Homo sapiens: one gene and its partners. The protein of the gene in region 3 purifies or fractionates together with the protein of the main gene of each other region. This does not show direct contact. Each region holds a gene or a part of one and is shown on either strand. Other genes may lie near its edges. The genes, in order: KIF2C, PREP, SGO2, PADI3, HEPHL1, LYG2 and LYPLA2.

What was found.
Region 1: the proteins of SGO2 (region 3) and KIF2C purify together in Homo sapiens (co-immunoprecipitation; one study listed by IntAct). This does not show direct contact.
Region 2: the proteins of SGO2 (region 3) and PREP purify together in Homo sapiens (affinity purification with mass spectrometry; 3 studies listed by BioGRID and IntAct, with this or other methods). This does not show direct contact.
Region 4: the proteins of SGO2 (region 3) and PADI3 purify together in Homo sapiens (affinity purification with mass spectrometry; 3 studies listed by BioGRID and IntAct, with this or other methods). This does not show direct contact.
Region 5: the proteins of SGO2 (region 3) and HEPHL1 purify together in Homo sapiens (affinity purification with mass spectrometry; 3 studies listed by BioGRID and IntAct, with this or other methods). This does not show direct contact.
Region 6: the proteins of SGO2 (region 3) and LYG2 purify together in Homo sapiens (affinity purification with mass spectrometry; 3 studies listed by BioGRID and IntAct, with this or other methods). This does not show direct contact.
Region 7: the proteins of SGO2 (region 3) and LYPLA2 purify together in Homo sapiens (affinity purification with mass spectrometry; 3 studies listed by BioGRID and IntAct, with this or other methods). This does not show direct contact.

What each region holds. Positions count from the first base shown.
Region 1 is NC_000001.11:44,763,837-44,766,051, reverse strand, and holds part of KIF2C (kinesin-like protein KIF2C), read right to left. Parts: intron 1-2,215. UniProt on the Homo sapiens protein: In complex with KIF18B, constitutes the major microtubule plus-end depolymerizing activity in mitotic cells. Regulates the turnover of microtubules at the kinetochore and functions in chromosome segregation during mitosis.
Region 2 is NC_000006.12:105,372,083-105,375,582, forward strand, and holds part of PREP (prolyl endopeptidase), read right to left. Parts: intron 1,497-3,500; coding exon 1,287-1,496; intron 1-1,286. UniProt on the Homo sapiens protein: Cleaves peptide bonds on the C-terminal side of prolyl residues within peptides that are up to approximately 30 amino acids long.
Region 3 is NC_000002.12:200,524,969-200,529,006, reverse strand, and holds the start of SGO2 (shugoshin 2), read right to left. Parts: upstream 2,801-4,038; 5' UTR 2,755-2,800; exon of another isoform or gene 2,267-2,754; intron 1-2,266. UniProt on the Homo sapiens protein: Cooperates with PPP2CA to protect centromeric cohesin from separase-mediated cleavage in oocytes specifically during meiosis I. Has a crucial role in protecting REC8 at centromeres from cleavage by separase.
Region 4 is NC_000001.11:17,252,098-17,255,597, reverse strand, and holds part of PADI3 (protein-arginine deiminase type-3), read right to left. Parts: intron 1-3,500. UniProt on the Homo sapiens protein: Catalyzes the deimination of arginine residues of proteins.
Region 5 is NC_000011.10:94,104,854-94,108,353, reverse strand, and holds part of HEPHL1 (ferroxidase HEPHL1 precursor), read right to left. Parts: intron 2,364-3,500; coding exon 2,224-2,363; intron 1-2,223. UniProt on the Homo sapiens protein: Is a copper-binding glycoprotein with ferroxidase activity. It oxidizes Fe(2+) to Fe(3+) without releasing radical oxygen species. May be involved in the regulation of intracellular iron content.
Region 6 is NC_000002.12:99,249,167-99,252,666, forward strand, and holds part of LYG2 (lysozyme g-like protein 2 precursor), read right to left. Parts: intron 1-3,500. UniProt on the Homo sapiens protein: May act as a potent antibacterial protein that may play a role in the innate immunity.
Region 7 is NC_000001.11:23,789,832-23,793,944, forward strand, and holds the start of LYPLA2 (acyl-protein thioesterase 2), read left to right. Parts: upstream 1-1,313; 5' UTR 1,314-1,419; intron 1,420-2,720; exon of another isoform or gene 2,721-2,815; coding exon of another isoform or gene 2,816-2,851; coding exon 2,852-2,929; intron 2,930-3,176; coding exon 3,177-3,208; intron 3,209-3,319; coding exon 3,320-3,385; intron 3,386-3,640; exon of another isoform or gene 3,641-3,701; intron 3,702-3,873; coding exon 3,874-3,921; intron 3,922-4,028; coding exon 4,029-4,099; intron 4,100-4,113. UniProt on the Homo sapiens protein: Acts as an acyl-protein thioesterase hydrolyzing fatty acids from S-acylated cysteine residues in proteins such as trimeric G alpha proteins, GSDMD, GAP43, ZDHHC6 or HRAS. Deacylates GAP43. Mediates depalmitoylation of ZDHHC6. Has lysophospholipase activity.

The DNA of each region.
Region 1 (2,215 bases), on a different chromosome or scaffold from region 3:
TAAGACGGAGTCTTGCTCTGTCGCCAGGTTGGAGTGCAGTGGCGTGATCTCGGCTCACTGCAACCTCCGCCTCCCGGGTTCAAGTGATTCTCCTGCCTCAGCCTCCCAAGTAGCTGGGATTACAGGTGCCTGCCACCATGCCTGGCTAATTTTTGTATTTTTAGTAGAGACAAGATTTCACCTTGTTAGCCAGGCTGGTCTCAAATTCCCGACCTTAGTTGATCTGCCTGCATCAGCCTCCTAAAGTGCTAGGATTACAGGCGTGAGCCATCACGCCCGGTCAAATGATTCTTTTTAAATAATAGGTATACAACTCAGCCTCCCGAGTAGCTGAGACTACAGGTACGCGCCACCACACCAGGCTATTTTTTTTTATTTTTTAGTAGAGACAGGGTTTCACTATGTTGGCCAGGATGGTCTTGATCTCCTGACCTTGTGATCTGCCTGCCTTGGCCTCCCAAAGTGCTGGGATTATAGGCATAAGCCACCGCGCCCAGCCCGAGTGACTTTATTCTTTCACCGTACTTGTCACCAAATCCTCCTCAATTCTGCTCCCTAAATGGTTTTTTTCTTTCTTTCTTTCTTTTTTTATTATTATACTTTAAGTTCTAGGGTACATGTGCACAACGTGCAGGTTTGTTACATATGTATACATGAACTATGTTGGTGTGCTGCACCCATTAACTTGTCATTTACATTGGGTATATCTCCTAATGCTATCCCTACCCTCAGTTCTTTTTATTATAATTTTTGCTGCACACACCACCTTTGGGATATTTATTTATTTTTATTTTTTGTAGAGATGGGGCCATGTTACCCAGGCTGGTCTCGAACTCCTGAGCTCAAGTGATCTTCCTTCCTTGACCTCCCAAAGTGTTGGGATTACAGGCATGACTCACTGCACCTGGCCAAATGATTATTTTATTTTATTTTTGAGACAGTCTTGCTCTGTTGCCCAGGCTGGAGTGCAGTGGCACCATCTCGGCTCACTATAACCTTCGCCTCCTGGGCTCAAGTGATTCTCCTGCCTCAGCCTCCCAAGTAGCTGGGATAACAGATGCCTGCCACCATGCCTGGCTAATTTTTGTATTTTTAGTAGAGACGGGGTTTCACCATGTTGGCCAGGCTGGTTTCAAACTCCCGACCTTAGTTGATGTGGCCGCCTCAGCCTCCCAAAGTGACAGGATTACAGGCGTGAGCCATTGCGCCCGGTCAAATGATTCTTTTTAAATAATAGATATACGACTGGGCGTGGTGGCTCACGCCTGTAATCCCAGCACTTTGGGAGGTCGGGGCGGGAGGATCACCTGAGGTAGGGAGTTCGAGACCAGCCTGACCAACATGGAGAAATCCCGTCTCTACTAAAAATACAAAATTAGCTGGGCGTGGTGGCACATGCCTGTAATCCCAGCTACTTGGGAGGCTGAGGCAGGAGAATTGCTTGAACCTGGGAGGTGGAGGTTGTGGTGAGCCGAGATGGTGCCGTTGCACTCCAGCCTGGGGGACAAAAGCGAAACTCCATCCCCCCCCAAAACAAACAAACAAACAAACAAACAAAAACCAACCAGATATATAGGCTGGGCATGGTGGCTCACACCTGTAATCCCAGCACTTTGGGAGGCTGAGGCAGGCGGATCACTTAAGATCAGGAGTTCAAGACCAGCCTGGCCAACATGGTAAAACCCCATCTCTACTAAAAATACAAAAAATTAGCCAGGCATGGTGGCACGCACCTGTAATCCCAGGTACGCAGGAGGCTGAGGAAGGAGAATCGCTTGAACCCAGGAGGCGGAGGCTGCAGTGAGCCAAGATTGCACCACTAAACTCCAGCCTGGGTGACGAGTGAGACTCTGTCTCAAAAACATATATATATAGAGAGAGAGTACATATTTTGGGGGGTACCTTGTAAGATTTTCATGCTTGTATATCTAAATGGTTCATGAATCTCATGTCCTCATTCCAATCCCATGAACACGGACACAGTTTGGTCTAGGCACTAGTTTCTCTTTTTTTTTTTCTGAGATGGAGTCTTGCTCTGTCACCCAGGCTAGAGTGCAGTGGCACGATCTTGACTCACTACAACCTTTGCCTCCCTGGTTCAAGTAATTCTCCTGCCTCAGCCTCCCAAGTAGCTGAGATTACAGGCGCCCGCCACCATACTCGGCTAATTTTTTGTATTTAGTAGACATGGGGTTTCGCCACGTTGGCCAGGCTG
Region 2 (3,500 bases), on a different chromosome or scaffold from region 3:
ATCTTGTAATTCATTGGCGAATTTATAAAAAAGGTCTTGATGTAGCCTAATCAAAAGGCAGAAAAAGCTAAACATAGCCAAGAGATGAAAAACACTGTAGCCTTATTCTCAATTCAATTGTGGGGGAAAAAAAAAAACAGAAAAGAAAGCAAGGATATTTAAAGATGACAAAGATACAACAAGTCATGATAAGGGGACAACAGGTACAGCAGAAAGCACTGGAGTAGCTGTGCTTCTTGCCAGATCCCAGCCCTCCAGCAAATTACTGAGCCTCTGTGCCCAAGCTCCTAATCTCTAACACAGGGATTGTAAAACTTACCTGTAAAGACCAACCAACATAACAAGAAAATGCTACATACCACGTTGAAATGTGGGGTAGCAAAAGGAAGAAAATGACACATTGTACCAGTAAGGTACAAGGTACATAGCCCTTCCTGCCTGGGAAAATTTAGAAGTGAAGGAGCAAAGAGGGAGGAACCCCTTGAACACAACAGGATCTTTGTGCAATTAAAGAGAAGAACAATAAAGGTGTGTCCAGAAAGTAACAAGGAGAAAAGTATCAAGATAAATGGCAACCAACAGGTGACCTATAACTTCTGATCAGAGGAGAATATGCGATTACTGTAGCAGTAAAGTTTTATAATCACTCAACATAATCAAATAGCTTGGTTCGGTTTAAAAATTCACCTTCTCCATAATCTCCTTAGGAGATATAACACATCTATAAGGGACTGATTGATTGTAATAATGATCTCATTTTTCCGCAGTTCCCTGTATCTATTTCTCCACCCATTGAAAAGGGGCTGGCCCTCTGGCTTGCTTTAGCCAACAGAATGCAGCAAATCTGACGTGCCAGGAGCAAGCCTAGGCATTAAGAAGGCTGTGTCATTCAGCTCCCCGTCTTGCAATTCTACTGAGTTGCCATGTGAGCAAGCCCAGGCTAGTCTGCTAGTCGTCCCAGCTGAGGGCCCAGAAATGTAAAAGAGCCAAGCCAAGATGAACCAACTAACCTGCAGCTGACCACAGATACATGTTAGAACTCAGCCAAGGCCAGAAGAACTACCTGGCCAACCCATAGGCTCATAGCAAAAACAAATGTTTATTATTCTAAGCTACTACATTTTGGTGGGGTCTATTACACAGCAAAGCCAACTGATACAACATCCTTTGAGGAAACATGGTTCTGGACCACACAACCTCTATGTAGGGTTCAGCATCTCTTTTCAGTCACTTGAAGTCACACTTCATTTTGTGAAAAATGTGCTTCATCTGAAGTCTTCACTCACCATCACTTTTTCCATCCTGTTGAGGGTATGAGTTGTAGAACATTCCCTTCCCATCATGGGTCCAGGCCATACAGCTGAACTTGACTCTTTCAAGCACATCTGGAAGCTCTTTGGCACCATCAACTTTCATGAACTTGATTGTCACCCAGTCTGAGCCACTGGCACTCAGACCATAGGCAAAATATTCACCATCTTCGCTGAACGCATAACCTATGGGACACAGGAGAAATCATCCAGTGACAAACACGGAACACAACTCCACGGTCCTTTATGCCATCTAACAAAGCTCTCTTTCATAACACGGAGGTAGAATGTGGCAATAAAAGGAATAGGAATCTGGTAGTGAGGAATCCCGGGGGCTCAGCCCAAGTTTTACAGGAATTACCCTTATAACCTTAGACAAGCTTCCTAACCTCTCCAGGTCTTAATTTGTCTATAAAATGAAATATTAGATTATATGCCTACTAAAATGCTTTCATTTTGAAATTTTTATAATGCAATAGGCAGTTCAGTTAAAAGCAGAGCTCATCTGGGACTTCTGTCATATTTCATTTATACTCTAAAGGGAATAAGGAGAAAAAGGAAACTGCTTTTAGAGTAATGACTGAATTATGACACATACCATATAATAGAACTAAATTGTAGTCATTAGGTAATTTGGGAGATTGATTCCAAATTATCTAAAATCCCTTGTTACAGCCTCATTTTTGAAGCATTACCTGTGCAATGTCCACACTGTCTGACCATTACAAGCCTAGGTAAATAAAGCCTGAGGGTTTGCAGTGAAGGCGCCCGGAGTGCACATTCCACAAGAAATTGTGAAAGGAAAAGCAACATGTCTATAGACTGTCGTGCCATGTACAGTCCTTTAGGGCCCTGGCAGAATGTTCTAATCACTATGGAATGTTTCCTGGCAAATACTTGTGTTTCATATTAGCTTTTTTAATTATGAAGTATGTAAAGCATTCAATACAACACCTCCTATTGGAGACTCTGACACCAGAGATTTCCTCTTAGGCTGTTTGCTAAACGTTATTGGGTAATGAAAATTTTAAGAAGCTCAACTATTATTAGAGGTTTCCTATTCTTTTACGTGGAATTTCATTTGTTTAAAATTTCACAGAACCTACTCATTAACCATTGTAGGTCCTATAAAGTATCTAGGCTCATATGTATGTAAATGCAGAAAAGAGTCTAGAAAGTGATAGGAAAAAGAAACATATTCACCTTTTATTCTACATAGCACTGGAGTGTTTGAATTGTTTATATATATATATATATATATATATATATATATATATATATATATATATATATATATATATCAGAAAATTTTCAGAAAAATTTAAATAAAACATTTTGATTTGAAAAGTATGTTTAAAAATCATATACTACAAAAATAATCTGAATGTTTACTCCTTTTGTGATAACTTCCCTATAATACCACTCTTAGAAAACTCAATGACTGTTTGAGGCAGGTCTCATGCCTAATTTAGCTTCTCGCCCATCAAGGCTTTGTCCATAGCAAACATTCCATAAAGAAGTCACTAGAAGAATGCATTATCGGGGTGGGAGTTAAGACCCTGTCCCTCTGGATGGGCTGCAAGATAGATCCTTGTGGAAACTAAATGAATTCCTATATGGGATATGTTACTTCAACAGAACCAGTGTATTAAATTCACTGAAAACTACAAGCTCAGATTCATGGAAGAATCTGAGCTGGTGATGTCTTATTTTCGATACTGGTTCGATAAAGGATCATTGTTTATATACACAGCCTATTCAGAGGGAGGGGAAGGTGGACCACCGAATGACTGGATCATGGTTAGAAGTGTTTGTATAAAAAAGGGTCTTTGCACAGGTCTGATGGAACGGGGCTCTATAACTCCCATCTTATTGATTACAGAGGACTTCAATGTCTCAATTTCTCAATTCTAGAGGGCCATAACTAATCATATGGTTTTTTCTATAAAACCAGAAGGTACTACAGGAGAAATGCTGAGCCAACGTCATCTATAACATCATTATCATTGTAGAGTTTACAATTATTAAAATACAGAACTGGAGAATAACTTAGTTCCTTACCCTAGAACTCTGCTTACTGCAGAAACCTTGGATAATCTTCTCTATGGCCTACGGAGGAGGTTATCTTAGGGGCAGAGTTAAGTAGGAGATGTACAGCAACTGTGGACAAACTTAGTCTTTAAACCTCCA
Region 3 (4,038 bases):
TTACTATGTTGTTAAATCAAATACTGTGGTCAGGCCCAGTCTCTTTTTACTTGATCTGTGAAAAGCATTTAATATCAAGTCATTCCTTCCTTTTGAAATACGCTCTTCACTTGGTTGCAAAATAGCACATTCTTCTGTTTGTTCTGAGGCAGGATTTTCTCCTGCCTCGCTGACCACTTCTCAGTCCCTCTTGCTGGTTATTCTTCATCTCCCTAACCTCTTACCACTGGAGTGCCCCAGATCTCAGTCCTTGGATCTCATCTCTTTTATATTTACATATACTCCCTGGACTATCAGCCAGTATCCTGGCTTTTAAATCTAAATGCTGATAACTCTCAAATTTGTGTTCCCAATCTAGACTTTTCCCTTGAACTCCAGATTTATTCATCCAACTGCCTACTACGCATCTCCAACTAGGATTTCTAACACACATCTCAAATTTAACATGTCCTAAACTCCCCCCACCCCAACCTACTCCACCATGTCCTCCCTAGCTCACTTAATGACAACTCCATTCTTTCAGTTGCTCAGGTCAGAAAGTTCCTTTCATATCCCACATCTATTCTATGATCAATTATGCTGACCCAGCTTTCACAATATATCCACCTGGGCTACTTACCACTATTTCTACTGCTACCACTTTGATTCAAGTTGCCATTCTCTCCCATGTACATTATTTGCTATAGCTACGTGAATGGTGTCCCTGCTTCCATTTTCTCCCCGACTATCTATTCTTAACCTAGCAACCACAATGATCCTTTTAAAGCTTAAGTAAATTCATGTTACTCCCATGTTAAAAAAAACTCTCCAGTAGCTTTCCATCTCACTCAATCTTTAAAATGGCCTAGAAAGTACTATACAATTTGACACTTCTCTTCCCCAATTAATCATCAGTGAACCTTTCTAATCCTTTTCATTAATCTTTCTCTTGCTCAATAATCTCTGGCCACACTGCCTACCTTGACATGCTCTAAAGCAGAAACTTTTATTCCTTCTTCCCTTTGTATCAACTCTTCCTTCAAATGACCACAGGGCTTGCTCACTTCCTTCGAGCATTTGCCAAAATGTCACTTTCTTAGTGAGCCTTCCCAGTCCAAACTACTTAAAAACTGCACACTTACCCCCATTCTCCCCTTCTGTTTTATTTTTCTCCGTTAACTTATCAATGTCTAAGATAAAATTAAATAGTTAACTTATTATCTGTTTTCTCCTACTAAATTGTAAGTTCAATGAGGGCATAAACTTTTGTCAAATTTGTTTGCTTCTGTACCTTAGTACAGAAATGTGCCTGCCACATAGCAGCTGCTGGATAAACATTTGTGGAAGAAGTGACTATGAATGAATGGAAGAACTTTCCAATAGAAAAACCGCCCACTCTTGGAATGGGTCTCCTTTGAAAGTGTTAAGCAGATGTTGGGAGGTGTCAAGCAAATAACGGAAAGATGGTTTTAGAAGAAATTTCTGCAATGGGGAATAAGTTGAACCAGAAACCTTTCAAGATTAAGGCTCAACAGTTCTTTTAAACGTTTTGCCAGGAAGAAACTTTAAAATCAAAGATCACTATCTATCTCAAAGACAGTAGAACACAGAAACTCCCCACAAACTGTTGCATCTCACACACCTGAAAGGGATCCTAACATAGAAATCTAGTTCATCTCCCAAAAAATCCAGTCTGGAATATCAAATCTCACTTTACTAATTAGGAAACCACAGCTGGACTGCCCTCCCCAATAAGCTGGTTCTGACACAATTCCTTAATTTAATAAACGACACTGTCAATCGCCTATTCAAATCCTCATGCCAGAAATCTGGGAGTGTTCCTTGACACTGCCCTGCAACCCCCTACATCAATGACCTCACCAAGGGAAACTTTAGGAGCCAGAACCAGGCATTTGGGGTACTGTTCCAGGGTGATTTACCATATAGACACTGAGACATTATGATAGTGATTACAACTGTGTTGGAGCTCCAGTTCCAACGTTTCATAGCTATGTGATCTCAACACCTCTTCGTCTCAATTTCCAGATTTATAAAACCATAAAAAATAAGGGCATCTCCTTGTAGGGACTAAATGAGCCAATGTATGTACAGTGTCTAGTACGGGACCTGGTAAACTATCAGCACTCAATACCAGCACTCTGTGACACTTGTCCGGCCAGCATCTCGACTATCTCTAAATACGAAATACTCAGTTCCACATCCAATTCTCCTGAATTGGATACCTCATCTAAAAAATCATTGTCCCTATTCTCTACTGAAATCCTACCTGTACATCAAGCAGCTCAAGTTCTAAGTTCCAAGTTCTCCCTAGTCTTCCATCACCCCTTCGCCTTCAGCCAGCCTCTCCAAACGAGAGGGCTCCTTCGAGAACTTTGGCACGCAGTCCCTAACATTCATTCCGCAGACACGTACTGAGCGCTCACAATGCCCTAGAAACTGTTCAAGGGAGTAGAGCAGTCCCAGAGACAGAAATATCTTCCCTTAAGTAGCTGACCTAACTGGTGGCTCTCCCCGCTCGCCCTGCCGGACGCTCAAATCTCAGAAACAAGAGGCAGCGACTCAAAGCCAAAACAGGACTCCGTCAACGAACCCCTCGTAGCCGGAGAGGGGCCGCCGTCCCGGATCCCGGAGGACAGAGGGCGGAAGACGAGCCGGAGACCGAGGCGGACAGCGCCTAGAGAACCGACTCAAGAACGACACCGATCCCGACAGGGAGAGGGCGGTCACGTCAACTGCCGCAGGCCACTAACTTACCTCTCTTTCAGCGTGGGGCACCCCCACCCAGCTCCGGGAGCTCGGCGAGCAGCAGCGGCTGCGGCTTGGGTTTAAACGCCACAGCCGTTGGCGGTTGCCCCATCAGCCAATCGGGTCCTGCGAAGATGGAGCAAGGGAGGGCGGTTACTAGGAAGTGAAAGGCGGAAAGGGCGGGACGCCGCTGCTAGGGCAGGAAGGGGCGTGCCCAGGCGAGCCGGGGGCGGCACAGTCTGCGTGACAGGGGTGCTCTTCCGCCCTGTGTTGGTGGCGGTCCGCTGTCTCCTGAAGCGTTGATGGAAAAGGAAACTCTCCTCTGACATTCATTATCAATCACATGTCTGAAAGGCTTGACAGCCACCTCAAGTCTGTTAGAAGGTTTATGTTGTTTACTGGGATACTACCCACCCACATCTTACCATTTCTTCTGCATCCTTGCATTTCCAAGTGTGACGCCAGCACATTTAGTTTTCACTTAAAAGCTCTCCCCGTTTTTCTTTTAACTTTCTGGGGGAAAAGCAGCAATGACATTTCGTTGCAAACCCCGGATCTCATTAATATTTAGGTCTTGCACTAATGGTCTGTTTTAGCTGAATATACAAGAATGACGTTTTCCATTATACACAACTACATTTTAAAAATGTATTATTCACCTTATATTCCATGTCAATTCGCTTATTTTTCGCAAATTACTTTCATAATTTTTACAAAGAATTTGGAGAAACTACAAAGAATAAAATTTCCTCTTTGTATGCCATTGGACTGAAAATGAAAATAGCTTGTTAAATCAAGGTTCCAATAATTGATGATACAGTAATGCAGTCAGCTTCATATTCTTGTCAATTTTTTGTTCATTCGAAGACATTTGAGAATTACAGCTTTCCATTTTTACTTTAAAGAATCTAGACAAATGATGCAAAACATGCTTTTGAGTTAAGATCTTTTAGTCTAATATAAATCACGATCAGTCTCCAAACAGATCTGGTTACATGAATCTTGTGTAAGTAGAAAAGTATTTACTGATTGTCCAGCTGCTAAAATTCCAGAAGACAGTGGTTTACAAAGTAATATACTGGTTATAGAAATTTATGCTTACCTAGGAGTTAACTAGCACTATATCTTGTTTACCCAGCCTGACACATTAAATGCTCAATGTATGTTATATGTTTTTTTAAATGAACCTTGTAGTGACTGTGCCATTTAATGGTTATTTAATCTTGGCCAAACTACTTAATCTCTCTGGGCTTCTGTTTCCTTATTTGTAAAATGGAGTTAAACAGCATCCCA
Region 4 (3,500 bases), on a different chromosome or scaffold from region 3:
GTACGGGAGGATCTAGCTTCCCATTTCCTAGAGAACAGGGGAAGTACCTGGAGCCTCACCTGGACAAAGTCCTTCCTCTCCAGGCCACCTCGAGCTGCCAGCATGGCTGAGCTGTCACATGCTGGCTTCTGGGCTTTCTAGGCAGTGCTTCTGGTCCAGTCCTGGGCTCAGGGCCTTGGACCCTCGCCGCTGAGGCTTCCATGCACAGGCCTGTCCAGGGCTCTCCCAGCCCCACACCCCCCAAGCCAGCCGGAGAACTCAACTGCTCCTCTGGCACAGCCAGCCTAAGATGGTGAGTTGGGGGTAAAATGTGGTAGGGTGGCCAACAGCATCAGTTTGCTGGGACTAAGGCTGTTCCTGGATACAGAATTTGCTGTGCTAAAACCTGCAAGGTCCCAGACAAACAGGAACAGTTGGCCTCCCTAAAAGTAGCCAACCTCAGACCCACCTTATTGAAAATGCAGATTCTTAGAAGTGCTCCAGGTGGGGCCTTGGAACCGCATTTTAAGCCATTCTGATATTTGCTGACATCTGAGAATCACGGCTTAGAGTAGGTTGTCTTAGAAATGCTGGAGCCTGGTGGGCCAGGCGCAGTGGCTCACGCCTATAATCCCAGCACTTTGGGAGGCCGAGGAGGGTGGATCACCTGAGGTCAGGAGTTCGAGACCAGCCTGACCAACATGGAGAAACCACGTCTCCACTAAAAATACAAAACTAGCCGGGCGTGGTGGCATATGCCTGTAATCCCGGCTACTAGGGAGGCTGAGGCAGGGAATTGCTTGAACCTGGGAGGCGGAGGTTGCAGTGAGCCAAGATAGCCCCATTGCACTCCAGCCTGGGCAACAAGAGCAAAACTCCATCTCAAAAAAAAAAAAAAAAATGCTGGAGCCTGGTCCCTCCAGCCCGTGTAGAGTTGACTCAGTGTGAGCCCATCCCCCTCGTGTATCACCCCCTTCAATGGTGAGGAGGAAGACGGGGCATTGGTGAGGAAGGTATCCCCCACAGCCACATAACTTGTGTGCTATTATCCCCACTTTACAGATGAGAATACTGAGCCTTGGAGACGGCAGGTGATTTGCCCAAAGTCACACAGCTAGCAAGTGACAGAGCCAGGACTCATGGCCAGCTCTGTCCCCACTCGCCTGCAAACCCAAACCCATCTTCTCCCTTCATGGACTCAGGGCCTGGACTTCTGGGAGAACAAAATCAGACATTTTAGGAGCTGAGAAACTGATGGGAAAGTTCCCCATGGCTGAACACCGAAAGGTTGACAAGATGACCAACGAGGTCTCCACCGAGCTGGGATGTGGGGGCAGAGGAGACCAAGACCCAGGCAGCTGGGTTTCTGGGTGGCAGTTCCAGCTGCCCCTCCCCAGTCAGCGAGGATCCCAGATCCGCCGACGCTGCCAGCCTCATCAATAGAATCAGGTTCAGGAAATCATGGTCCCACTGTAATCTGGGTGGCCCTGCCCCACCCCACCACTGGAAAGTGGCAGCCCCGTATACCCTTTTTCCAAATCCCCCGTATTTAAAAGAGCAGAAATGCACCAATCCCCCCAAGGGCCCAGCTCTCTGCACAGGCAGGTCAGAGCTCTCGCATCAAACAAAATCCGATGTTGACAGAATGGAAGCTGCTTTGTCAAATCAGGGAGGGGACTCAGAGGCCTCCATGAGTGGAAATTGAAACCCACTGTTCTATGCCAACCCCTTCAGGGTCCATATGGGGAAACTGAGGCCCAGGGTTGAGTAGAAAGTTGCTCAAGATGACATAGTGAGTGACCACAGAACTAGGACCAAAACTTGGAGTCCTGGCTCCATTAGGCAGCCTCTGCAGAGAAAGGGGTGACATGAGTTGTTTGTCTTCCCAGTGAGGGCAGCGGTTCTTAGCCCCAGCTGCACATTCATCCCCAGCGGATCCTGAAAACCTAGGGTGCTGGGGCCTTTCACAGATGAGTTGAATCAGGTTTCCCAAGGTGGGGCCTGGGCATCAATTTTTTTATGGATCCCCAGGTGATTGAAACACACTTCCAGGGTTGAGAACCTCTGAGCTGGAGAAAAGAGGAGCTTCATGGCTCATTGCCAGGTGTGGTCTCTTAGGAGACACCTGCCCGGGATACCTTAGTGATGGGCTCCCTGCCTTCTGTCTTTTCCATGTGCTGTTACTTGAGGTCATTCTGAGGTGCGAGAGCTGTGCACCCGCTCAGGTCAAGGTTGCCCCCTCTTCGAGGTGTCTTAGAGAACAGACTCAGCTGCCCTCTAGGCTGCTGTGTGCGCTGGGCCCCTCTGCAGCCATGCAGATGGGACCTGACCCTTCCAGGACCTTCTGACTGCAGGGCTTACACAGCCGTGCATCTGAGAACACCTGGAGCTCTGGGGCCCTTAGAGCCAAGTCTGCCAGCACAGAGGCGCCACAAGCCCCACCAGGACCTCCAATCCAGGCGAGTCTCAGCACCTCTGTGACTCAGTTTCTTCTTCACCAATAGTCAGAGATCCTTCGTTTGAATTGGAAGACCTAGTTTCTAGTTTTAGCTCTGTCCCTAACTCACTATGTAACCCTGAGCAAGTCATTTCACACTCCAGGCCTCAGTTTCCCCAACTAAAAAATGAAGTGGCGTGTAAGACCCCAGAGATGTCTCACTGAACCAGCCTGGGGACTGCTCTCCAAGCCCACCTGTGATGAATCCCAAAGGTGACCAGCTTCGCGGGCCCCTCAGCCACATGAGCAGCCACAACCCAACAGACTCCAGGAAGCATCTCCACATGTTATGGGAAAGCCCAGTGGGAATGGGTCCAGTCTGTTCTTACCACTGGGCCAATGACAGAGGCCCTGAGGATGGCCCTCCCCACCAGAGGTCATCCTGGGATTTTGATTTTGCCCATTAAGAATGAAACTGGGCCAGACACGGTGGCTCTCACCTGTAATCCCAACACTTTGGGAGGCTCAGGCAGGCAGATCACTTGAGCCCAGGAGTTCAAGACCAGCCCGGGCAACATGGCAAAACCCCATCTCTACAAAACATGCAAAACTTAGTCGGGGATGGTGGTGCACGCCTGTAGTCCCAGCTACTCGGGAGGCTGAGGCGGGAGGATAGCTTGATCCTGGGGAGGTCCAGGCTGCAGTAAGCCAAGATTGCACCACTGTATTCCAGCCTGGGCAACAGAGTGAGACCCTGTCTTCAACAAAAAAAAAAAAAAAAGAAGAAGAAAAGAAAGCAGCTTTCTTCCTGCACCAAGACTTTGTGCTAAGGTTTGTGCTGATGCCTGAGCCTTGAGAAAGAGCTGTGTGGAACCAAGCAAACCACCTGGGCTGTGGAACTTGATGGGATCTGGGTTCAAGCCCTATAGCCCTGTGGGATAGCACTTGTCAGACCACCATCCCGCTGAGCCTGCCTCCAGTTGCAGGGAGGAGTTAATCAGCCACCAGACGCCCAGTGCATGGCTCAGTGCACCAGGGTACCCTTCCTTCCCTTTCCCCATCCTAAGACTCACTGCTCAAGAAA
Region 5 (3,500 bases), on a different chromosome or scaffold from region 3:
AGCCACAAACTGGAAGCAAATATTTGTGAGTCACATCACTGAAAAAGGATTTGTATCCAGAATATATAAAGCCCTCAAACTCTACAATAAGGAAACAAGTAACCCAATTTTTTTAAATGGGCTTACAATTTGGACACTTCACCAAAGATTTACAGATGACAGATGGTAAACAAACACATGAAAAGATGCTCAATATCATTAGCCACTGGGAAAATGTAAATGAAAAACAATGAGATACCACTATATCCCCTCCCCAAGGAGGGAATGCCTAAGGGAAAAAAATGAAATAAAAACTAAAAATACCAACTGCATATGTGGATGTGCAACATATGGAGTTCTCGTATATTTCCTTGGAAATGCAAAATGATACTGCCTTTTTGGAAAACAGTTTGGTGGTTTCTTATGAAATCAAACATACACTTATCACATGGCTTAGCAATCCTACTTCTAGGTATTTTCTCAAGGAAAATGAAAACATATGTTCACACAAAAACATGTGCACAAATGTTTGTAATGACTTGATTTGTAATAAACAAACTTGAAAATAACTCAAATGTTCCTCAACAGGAGAATAGATAAACAAACTGCATTATATCCTTACAATGGAATACTACTCAACAGTCACAAGAAACAAACCACTGATACACATAACAAGATGGATACAATTTGAATGCCTATGTTAAATCAAACAAGCCAGATTCAAGATGCTACAACCTATGATTTCCACATAACCTTTCAAAAAAGGCAAAACTATAGAGACAGTGGTTGACAAGTGTTAAGTATGGGGAAGTAGTTGACACTAGAGGGTGCAATGGTAAAATTTGTGGGGGAAATAAAAGTATTCTATATTGTGATTGTTGTTCGTTACACTACTGTATGTGCTTATCAAAAGAGAACTGTACACTAAATATGGTGAATTGTATTCAATGTAAATTATATCTTATTTTTAAAGTGTATATGTAAATTTTTATAATTTTGTGTATTAAATTTTATAAATTTTTAATATAATTTTTAAAATGTGAGTTTAAAAAAGCCAAATTCTGAAAAGCAGCATAGCCATTTAATATGTGAAACTCTAATCATAGCAGGCTAATACTTGGTGTCGTAAACAACGTTGAAATATACAAAGGAGAAAGGATATTAAATGTTTTATTAAAGTTACCGTTTATTCGTGTCTAACTAGAAAAGATCAATTCCAGTTTTCTCCACACATTGGATATGATTGTTCTTTTCTATTCCACTTCCTTGTAGAAAGCACTGAGAACTTCGGATGACAGACTATTTGGACCTTTCCATGGAGATTCTGATTCAGCAGGTCTGGGTCGGGCCTGGCAGTTGGGTTTTTACATAGTTCCCCAGATGGCTCTGCTGTACAGTGAGCACCACCCATATGGTACAGCTTGATGCTAGAGGGTAGAAAGTCACACATGGTCCAGCCCAGCTCACTAGGGCAAAAGTCAAGATAAAGTTTCAGGGCTTAGGCCAGAGCTCAAAATAGCTCCTTTACTGGATAGAGCTATTCTGTTAGCTAATCACACAGAAAAAGAAAAGGGTGGGGAGAAGGAAAGGGAAAGAAAAAAGGAAGGGTGAGGAAAAGGGACGAATGCTGTCAGTGTCCGTGGTTTCATATACAATATTAACAGCATATTCCAGGGTGGTCAGAGTTATCCCCAGATCACTAATGAGAAAACTCTCACCTGAGGCTTGGAGAGATTTTTATAAGCACAATAATATACATATACATATTAAGAAATAGCCAGGCCTGGCGTGGTGGCTCACGCCTGTAATCTCAGCACTGTGGGAGGCCGAGGCGGGCAGATCACGAGGTCAGGAGATTGAGACCATCCTGGCTAACATGGTGAAACCCCGTCTCTACTAAAAAATACAAAAAAAATTAGCCAGGCGTGGTGGGACACACCTGTAGTCCCAGCTACTCGGGAGGCTGAGGCAGGAGAATGACATGAACCCGGGAGGTGGAGCTTGCAGTGAGCTGAGATTGTGCCACTGCACTCCGCCCTGGGCAACAGAGCAAGACTCCGTCTCAAAAAAAAAAAAAAAAAGAAAAGAAATATCCACCAGGGAAACGGTACAATCACATTATTCTGTTCCATTCTCACCTATCCTCACAAGCATTATTGCCAAGTAACTCTTATTTTCCACTGGAAATACATTGAATTTGTTAGTTCAAAAACGTCTTTCCCAAAGCACTTTCCTTATACTTACTTTGAAAAGAAAGCTCTCAGCATGATAATGGATGGTATGTATGTCCACTTCACTTCCTATCCCTAACAAATACCAGTTTGTCATTGTATCTTCGTTCATTATGAGGCCATGGAGATTCCCAAAAATCTTTCCATTAATGGCTTTAAAAGGTGATAAGAAAATAACCTTTGGTTAGTTAAAAGATAAGCTGATTTTTTAAATGTTTCCAGAAGATCTTTAGGTCACTGATATTTTCATCTGTCTAGTAAACATGCAACAATCTCACTCACCCCTAGCAGTGTCCTACCATTCTAGACCCAAAATTCAGATAACTGAGAAATCCTTCTACAAAGAGAGCGAGAACAGAGAAATAGCAGTTTTAAAGCCGTATCTTGGTGGCAGTGTTTTGTTTGTTTATTCAGCATAATCTCTTTATGAAGGGAAATACAGTCTCATTGGAGAGGTAGTCAGATTTATACCACTCTACAGAGAACAAATCAAGGCATAAACAAGTTTATGTAAATAAAAATTGAGTGACTTAGAAGGTATTTTCTTAATATTTCACTTGTTGAGAATAGTTTAAGCCTGGCTGAATCTCCAAAAATAAAAGAGAGCTTCACACGGGCTGAGCTCATGACCTAACAATGACCAAAGCAAACTGAGTTTACATGATGGTGACTCCCACTCCTCCACTGTCTACTGACTTTTGATTCTGTGCATTGTGGTGCAACCAAATGACCTGCATTCATTAAAAATGGAGAGCATACTAAGACATCTTTAGGAGAAGAAAGCAAAACTGGTAGGGGAAAGAGTAGCTGAATGGGGAATCAGGCTACTATATTCTAATCTATATTAACAAGTAGCTTTGTGACCTTGGGCAAGGCCTTTTTGTGCACTTTTGGTCAAAAATAGCTGTTGGTGAGAAACTGTGGATGTGTCAATGTGAACACATTACTCCCACCAACAAACTACCTTAAATTATGTAGAAGTAACACAGATACATTAAAACAGAAATTTGATGGTAGTGTTTCATATCCCAGAGACAATTAAACCTGGCCCTTAAATTTAAACAAATAGAAGTTATGGCATATTCTTATAAAAATATGACAATAAATGATGATTTGTTTTTAAAGAATTACTTTACAGTCTTAGAGCTTAGAGATCCCAGGATTCAGAAATACATGTCCCTACAAGTTAGTACAAAGCCTCAATGACTTTGCTGCCAGCCAATCAGTGGCTAGGCTGGTTCAGTCTGAAGGAAAGCATTAGAGGACTTTCTTCAGTCCAGGTGCCCCTGG
Region 6 (3,500 bases), about 100 Mb from region 3:
TCCCAGCACTTTGAGAGGCTGAGGCAGGACGATTGCTTGAGCGTAGGAGTTTGAGACCAGCCTATGCAACATGGCAAAACTCATTTCTACAAAAAATACAAAAATTAGCCTGGTGTAGTGGCACATGCCTGTAGTCCCAGTTGCATGGGAGACTGAGACAGGAAGATTGATTGAACCCGGGAGGTCGAGGCTGCAGTGAGCTTTGATGGTGCCACTGCACTCCAGCCTGGGCAACAGAACAAGACCCTGTCTCAAATCTCAAAAAAAAAAAAAAGGATTTTGTTAAAATGTTTGATGTAAAAAAAATAGAATCTGGTTGGGCGTGGTGGCTCACACCTGTAATCCCAGCACTTTGGGAGGCCAAGGCAGGCGGATCACCTGAGGTCGGGAGTTCAAGACCAGTCTGACCAACACGGAGAAACCCATCTCTACTAAAAATACAAAATTAGCCAGGCATGGTGGTGCATGCCTGTAATCCCAGCTACTCGGGAGGCTGAGGCAGAAGAATCGCTTGAACCCAGGAGGAGGAGGATGCAGTGAGCCGAGATCGCGCCATTGCACTCCAGCCTGGGCAAAAAGAGCGAAACTCTGTCTCAAAAAAAAAAAAAAAAAAAAAAAAGAATCTAACCACTTCTCCCACCTCTGCTTCTGCCATAGTCCCAGCCAGCATCATTGCTCATCTGGACTCTCCTAACAGCCTTCTAACTGACCTCCCTGATTCACTCTTGCAGCCCATCCTCTACTTAGTAGACGGAGTGGCCCTGTGGGAATATGCATGGGCTGCTATCAGTCTTCTCTCTTAACCTTCCAGTGGCTTTCTCCTCCTTTAGGGGAATAGCCAAGTCCATCCTGCAGCCTCCAAGACCTACTAGATGTGGCCCTCTGCTCCTGTTCCTACTTCTCTTTCCCTTTGTTCACTCTCCTCCAGCCACATTCTTCTTTGTGCTTATCCTTCAACATGCCAGGCAGGTTTCTGCCTCAAAGCCTGTATGTTTGTGGTCCCTTTTGCCTAGAATGCTATTCCTCCTGGTATCTACATGATCATGCCTTCAGGTCTCTGTCCAAATATCACCTTATCAGCAGAATATATAGCGAGTTTATAGACAAAAAAAGAAAATAGTCCTTAAACATATAAAAGACGTTAAACCACACTCAAAAGAAGAGAAAGGCCACATTAAAACATCATTATAACAGCATTTTCCAACTCTTTTTTTTTTTTTTTTTTTGAGACAGAGTCTTGCTCTGTCGCCCAGGCTGCAGTACAGTGGTGCGATCATGGCTCACTGCAAGCTCCGCCTCCTGGGTTCATGCCATTCTCCTGCCTCAGCCTCCCCAGCAGCTGGGACTACAGGCGCCTGCCATCACACCCGGCTAATTTTTTGTATTTTTAGTAGAGGCGGGGTTTCAGCATGTTAGCCAGGATGGTCTCGATCTGCTGACCTTGTGATCCGCCCACCTTGGCCTCCCAAAGTGCTGGGATTACAGGCGTGAGCCACCACGCCTGGCTGCATTTTCCAACTCTTTAGTTGGCAAGAGCCCAAAGGTTTGGCAATACCCTCTGTGGGAGAGGTTGTGAGGAAATAGGCTGTCACACACATTGCTGTGGAACACAGTTTTGTGATAGGCTGTTCATTCCAGCACTGTTGATAAGAGCAAAGGACTGCAAACAACACAAATGTCATTAATTTAGGGACTGGTTGAGTAAGTGATGCTACGTCCACAGTGGAGCACTATGCAGCTGCAAAAGGAAAGAATAAGACCTGTATATACTCCTGTAAAATTCTCTCCAGGGACAAAATAGTATTTATAGAATTGTACTCTTTGTGTAAGAAAGGTAAGAAAATACAATCGTATATTTTGTGTGATTTGCTCATATTTTCAAAAGAAACAATACAAGGATGAATGAAAAACTGATAAAAATTGTTAGTTATGGAGAGAGTAAGAGGAAGGTAAAGGGAACAGGGATAGGGGATAGACTAACTATCTTTTTTAAAGTTTTTATTTTGGAACCATGTAAATGTTATCATAAATTTTAAAATTAAATCAAATGGGGAAAAATGGAATCATAAAAAAGAAGAACAAATGAACATAACTCTATAACAAATTGAAAGATTAATAAACACATAGAGGAGAATTATCTTAAGTGACTTTAAAATATATCCATATAAGTCTATACCACTACATAGGAATCCATCCTGTGAACATAAATAATCACAAGAAAATCTTAAATTATATTTACTGTCTCATTGTTGGTTGGTAATACTGTCATACTTATTTTGACACTATTGTATGTAAATAAGTAATAATGCTAATGTCATTAGAACTAGGATTTTTAGTGTAAGATAGCAGAGGTACAAATATAAAACTGATGTAAAATGCTTGCATTCTTAAATATAAATGTGAAATATCTGAATGCATAGTTGTTTTCCTTTTAAAAATATATATTTTCTAGTTCCTGCCACTGAAAACACCTGAAATAAACGACAGCTCCATAGCAATGGAGCACTTTTACTTCCCACACTGTGGTCTCTAAATACCATTTCCTGCTAAGTGGAACCAGCGCTCCTCAGAATAATGGCTGATTGCCTGCCTGGGGCAGGAAATGTTCAAGATGAACCAGGAACATCTTTTTGTGCCAGAGCTGGTCCTTATATGTTAGAGACACATTAAAAAAAAAAATTTTTTTTTCCAGATGGAGTCTCACTCTGTCGCCCAGGCTGGAGTGCAGTGGCCATTCTCCTGCCTCAGCCTCCCAAGTAGCTGGGACTACAGGTGCCTGCCACCACACCTGGCTAATTTTTTGTATTTTTAGTAGAGATGGTGTATCACTGTGTTAGCCAGGATGGTCTCAATCTCCTGACCTCTTGATCCGCCTGCCTCGGCCTCCCAAAGTGCAGGGATTACAGGTGTGAGCCACCGTGCCCAGCCCAAAAATTTTTACAGGTGAAATGTTTTTATCTCACTGCAAGCTCCGCCTCCCAAGTTCATGCCATTCTCCTGCCTCAGCCTCCCAAGTAGCTGGGACTACAGGTGCCTGCCACCACACCTGGCTAATTTTTTGTATTTTTAGTAGAGATGGTGTATCACTGTGTTAGCCAGGATGGTCTCAATCTCCTGACCTCTTGATCCGCCTGCCTCGGCCTCCCAAAGTGCAGGGATTACAGGTGTGAGCCACCGTGCCCAGCCCAAAAATTTTTACAGGTGAAATGTTTTTATCTCCCTCCCTTCCTCTCACTCTTTCCCTCTCTCTTCCCTTTTTCCTCTCACTCTCTTACTGTTCGTTCCTCTCACTAGAAGATAAATTTCATTAGGTCAGATACTAGATGTTTTTCTCTGCTATATCCTCCTCAGCACCTGGAACAATGCTTGGCACAAAGTAGACATTTAATAAACATTTGCTGAATGGAAGAATGGATAGTTGGATGGATGAAGGAATGAGACAGAAAGGGATTGTTTAAATTATCTGGATCAAGTGTCCTTATATTGACAGGTTCAGTATC
Region 7 (4,113 bases), on a different chromosome or scaffold from region 3:
TCTGGGCCTGGGGGAAAGTGCTTTGTTGAGCTTCCAACTTTGTACTGTTTTCTTTTTCTTTTCTTTCTTTTTTTTTTTTTTTTTTTTTTGAGACAGAGTCTCGCTTTGTTGCCCAGGCTGGAGTGTAGTGGCACTATCTTGGCTCACTGCAAGCTCCGCCTCCCGGGTTCACGCCATTCTCCTGCCTCAGCCTCCCCCCGAGTAGCTAGGACTACAGGCGCCCGCCACAGCGCCAGGCTAATTTTTTGTATTTTTAGTAGAGACAGGGTTTCACCGTGTTAGCCAGGATGGTCTCGATCTCCTGACCTCGTGATCCGCCCGCCTCAGCCTCCCAAAGTGCTGGGATTACAGGAGTGAGCCACCGCGCCTGGCTGTACTGTTTTCTTTCTGTTCAAAGAAAACACTAGTATAGGTTAGGCTGGGAGAGTGAGTCCTAAGCGGCTGAGGGTCAAGTGTGACTCATTTCCTATTTGCAGATCCCCACACATTCTCAGGGACATGCTCCTTCAACTCAGTTTGCCTGCCTTCTGACTTTTCTGTGGTCCCTGATACCTATTTCCACTTCAGCTTGATGGCAGCGTTTTGTGCACTGTCTGCATGACATTGCTTGTGAAGGGCAGCGCTAACACTGCCAGTGCCTGTCCAGCTCTCCTGATACGGCCTTTGTATTTTTCCTAGGTCCTTTTTTGCGTGATTAACACCTCACGCTGTGATTTTACTGTATAAACCATGTTCACACAACCTCATTTAAGCCTACCAACAAAGCTGTGAAGGAGGCAGGGTGGTTATTACCATTTTATATATCAGGAAGCAGATCCAGAGAGGCAGAATTTAAATGGAATCCCGAGGTTGCTGTTTACATGCCTTCCTTGAGCCTCAGTTTCCCCATCTTCAAGGCTGGAGAACTAGATGATCTGTAAGGTCTCTTCGGTTCAGAGTGTGTCATTCCATTCATGATCCTGGAATAGGGCATGAAAGCCAGTGGCAGACACCCGAGGCCTTAAGAGGTGTGTCCCATGAGGATGGGAAGGTGGTAAAGTTTATGCAAACAATAGTGTGAGGGATGCCTCTCCTTCCGGTCGGCCCTCCTCCAGGAGGCGCATGGGTGGTGGTAGCAAGTGGGAGTCTTGGGTGCCCTGTCTCGAATCTACAAGGTGGGAGCGGGTGAGAACCCAGCGACTGCGCGGCTGAATGACAGGGAGTAGCCCCGCCGCCTCCAACATGGCAGCTTCTATCCAGCGAAGCCGGGTCCCCGCTTCCGGGTTCCGTACTGTCGGCCAGGCTACTTCCGGCAGCGCGATGGCTGGGTTCCCGGGACTCGAACGGAAGTTCCGGCGGGGGCGGCCGAGGGGGAAGAGTGTGTCTGCGGGAGAAAGAGGAGAATCGCCCAAGCGGCCTCGGAAGTCCCAGGGAGTGGAGGTACCCAGCCGGCGGCTGCGGAGGATGGGCGTGTAGGGGGAGGTCGGCCTCGGGAGGGTCCCGGAGAGCGGGGAGGGGGAACCGTGATGGGGGGGATGGGGGTGGGGAGTGAGGTGCGAAGGCGCTGTCCAGTCTTGGGGACTTCGGGAGTGGAGCGGGGCTAGGCAAGGGGGTGTCTGAGTATAAAGAGACAGACTTCAGGGTCGGAAATAGAAGAGCCCATTGTGGGGCGGGGGCTTCCCCAGAGTCAAAGGTACAAAGCTTTATTGTGGGCAGGTGGGAGTCCTGGGTCAGGGTAGAAAATTTCACTGGGTAGGGTGACCTTTGGTCAGAACAGAAGTTCCCATTGTGGGGAGCGGGAGATCCTGGGTCAGGGTGGAAGTTCTCAAGGTGTATAGAGAGAGACAGGTCAGGGGGAAGGCACCCCTCCGAGGAGGGAGCCTGGGCGGGAGGTGCAAGTCCCCACGGTGGAGAAGGAAGGGAATCGCAGCTCAGGGCAGGAGGTGCATTCCCCATGGGAAGAGGAACCCCGGGTCACAGGTGAACGATCCCATTGTGGGGAGCTGCCCTCAGGGGTCAGAGATGGAAGGTGAGGCCAGTTGGGAGGGGTGGGCAGGCACTTGAGGCAGGTAGTGGAAGCTTCCGGCGAGTTTGGAGGACGCCGAGGATGGGGAGGGGCCAGCCAGCCTGACATTCTTTTGTGTGTTTGGGAGTCCCAGAGCGTGGTCAAGCCAGGGCTCGTTTGCAGTCAGTGGCAGCAGCAGCAGGTAGCTCCGTTTAGGGGGGGCGTGGAGCACCAGTTTGGGGGTGGGTGGAGTTCTTACGCTTTCTGGGGACATGGGCAGCCCCCTGGGGGTCTGGGAATGGATGGGCCAGAAACTGCTGTGAAGGCTGGATGGGGGCTGGGTGGGGGGAGGTTGAGATGGGGGTTGGAGGCGGCACTGAGTAGGGGATGGAAGCTCCTTTCCCTGGCACTTTTCTCTCCATTTCCCATAGGGCCCGGAGTTGGGGAGGCAGGGACCCAGGGATGATTGGAGAGGAGGGGGAAGGCACTCACCCCTGAGGAGTTAGAGGGGGAATGAAGCAGGCGTGCCGCTGCCTCCCCTCTGCCCCCTGCCCTACAGTCCCTATGCCCTGCCTCTGCCTGTCTCCAGCAAGCTCAGGTCCTGTGGTTGGGCCAGAACCAGAGACACATGTTCTGGGCCACTAGGGAGGCTGTCTCTGCCTTTCAGCCCTGGAACTGAGGCAGACTTCTTCTCCTGTGCCCTGGGACTTCTTGCTTGACTATTCTTTGTGCCCAGGACAGAACCTGGGTGCTGTGTGGGGCTGATGGCCTGGTGGCCTCTTGGGCCAGGAGTGTGTCCTGTGCCTGGTTTTGCTCTTGACCGCCGCCCCGATGTATGCAGGCCCCCGCCGTGGAGCCGTGTGGTGTATGTGTGGTAACACCATGTCTGTGCCCCTGCTCACCGATGCTGCCACCGTGTCTGGAGCTGAGCGGGAAACGGCCGCGGTAAGGGTCCCCTTTCACCCACGGCCAGACACTGTGGGAGCAGCTGGAGGACCGGCTGGAGGGGGTGTGGGAAAATGGAGGTGGCAGTGATGAGCAGGGAGTATCCTGAGGCCAGCAGGCTCGGGGTAGTAACCTGTTTGGCTGCTACCTGGGTTCCCCCAGGTCCTTGGGGGTGGGGGAGGGGTGGGCAGAAGTTGGAGGACCTAGGGGAAGCCTTCCTGTCTCCCCATTTCCCATCCTTTTCCAGGTTATTTTTTTACATGGACTTGGAGACACAGGGTAAGTGACTGAGGAGGGGTGCTCCTTAAGGAGGGGTCCTGGCCCAGCAGCGGACTGGAGAGGCCTTCTCTTCCTACCACATCGGAGCCTTTTCTCCCGTCCCTCCTACAGGCACAGCTGGGCTGACGCCCTCTCCACCATCCGGCTCCCTCACGTCAAGTACATCTGTCCCCATGCGTGAGTGTCACCCCAGCAAGGGAGGGGCTGAGGCTGGGGATCATCTGGGGGTGGTCCTGTCATCCCAGGCCTGTTCTCTCCTGTCAGTTGCATCCTGGGGCTTGGGCTCAGGGCAGTCAGAAGTGGCATTTTCAGCCTGAGCTCCTGTGGAGCCCCCAGGAGTGGGGTCCAGCACCAGCCCCCAGCCCTAGGGCCTCCTAGACCTGAGCTCTCCTAGAACCCACACCTCCCTTTGCCCCTTCCCCAAGTACTCACCGACTACCTGGGACCCCGTCACACCAAGCGCTGGGCTCTGCTTCTCCATTACTGGCGCTTTGCCCCAACCACAGCCTCCAGCCCCACGTGGCAGGTTGCCTGGCAACACCTTAAACACAGGCCCTGCCTGCTGGGAGGGGCCACCAGGGGCGGCGCGGCCCCACTCCGGGCTCTGAGCTCTGGCCTCCTCATTCCTCCTGAGCATGATGGGCCCTCTGGCTCTCTTTCCCCAGGCCTAGGATCCCTGTGACCCTCAACATGAAGATGGTGATGCCCTCCTGGTGAGTTTGGGAGTGGGGGTGGGCAGGGGGACGAGGACACTTGGGCTGAGGGAGCCACAGGGGGCTGGCTGGGGTTTTCTATAGCTGCCAGTGCCTCTACTCCCAAGGTTTGACCTGATGGGGCTGAGTCCAGATGCCCCAGAGGACGAGGCTGGCATCAAGAAGGCAGCAGAGAACAGTAAGACCCCAGCC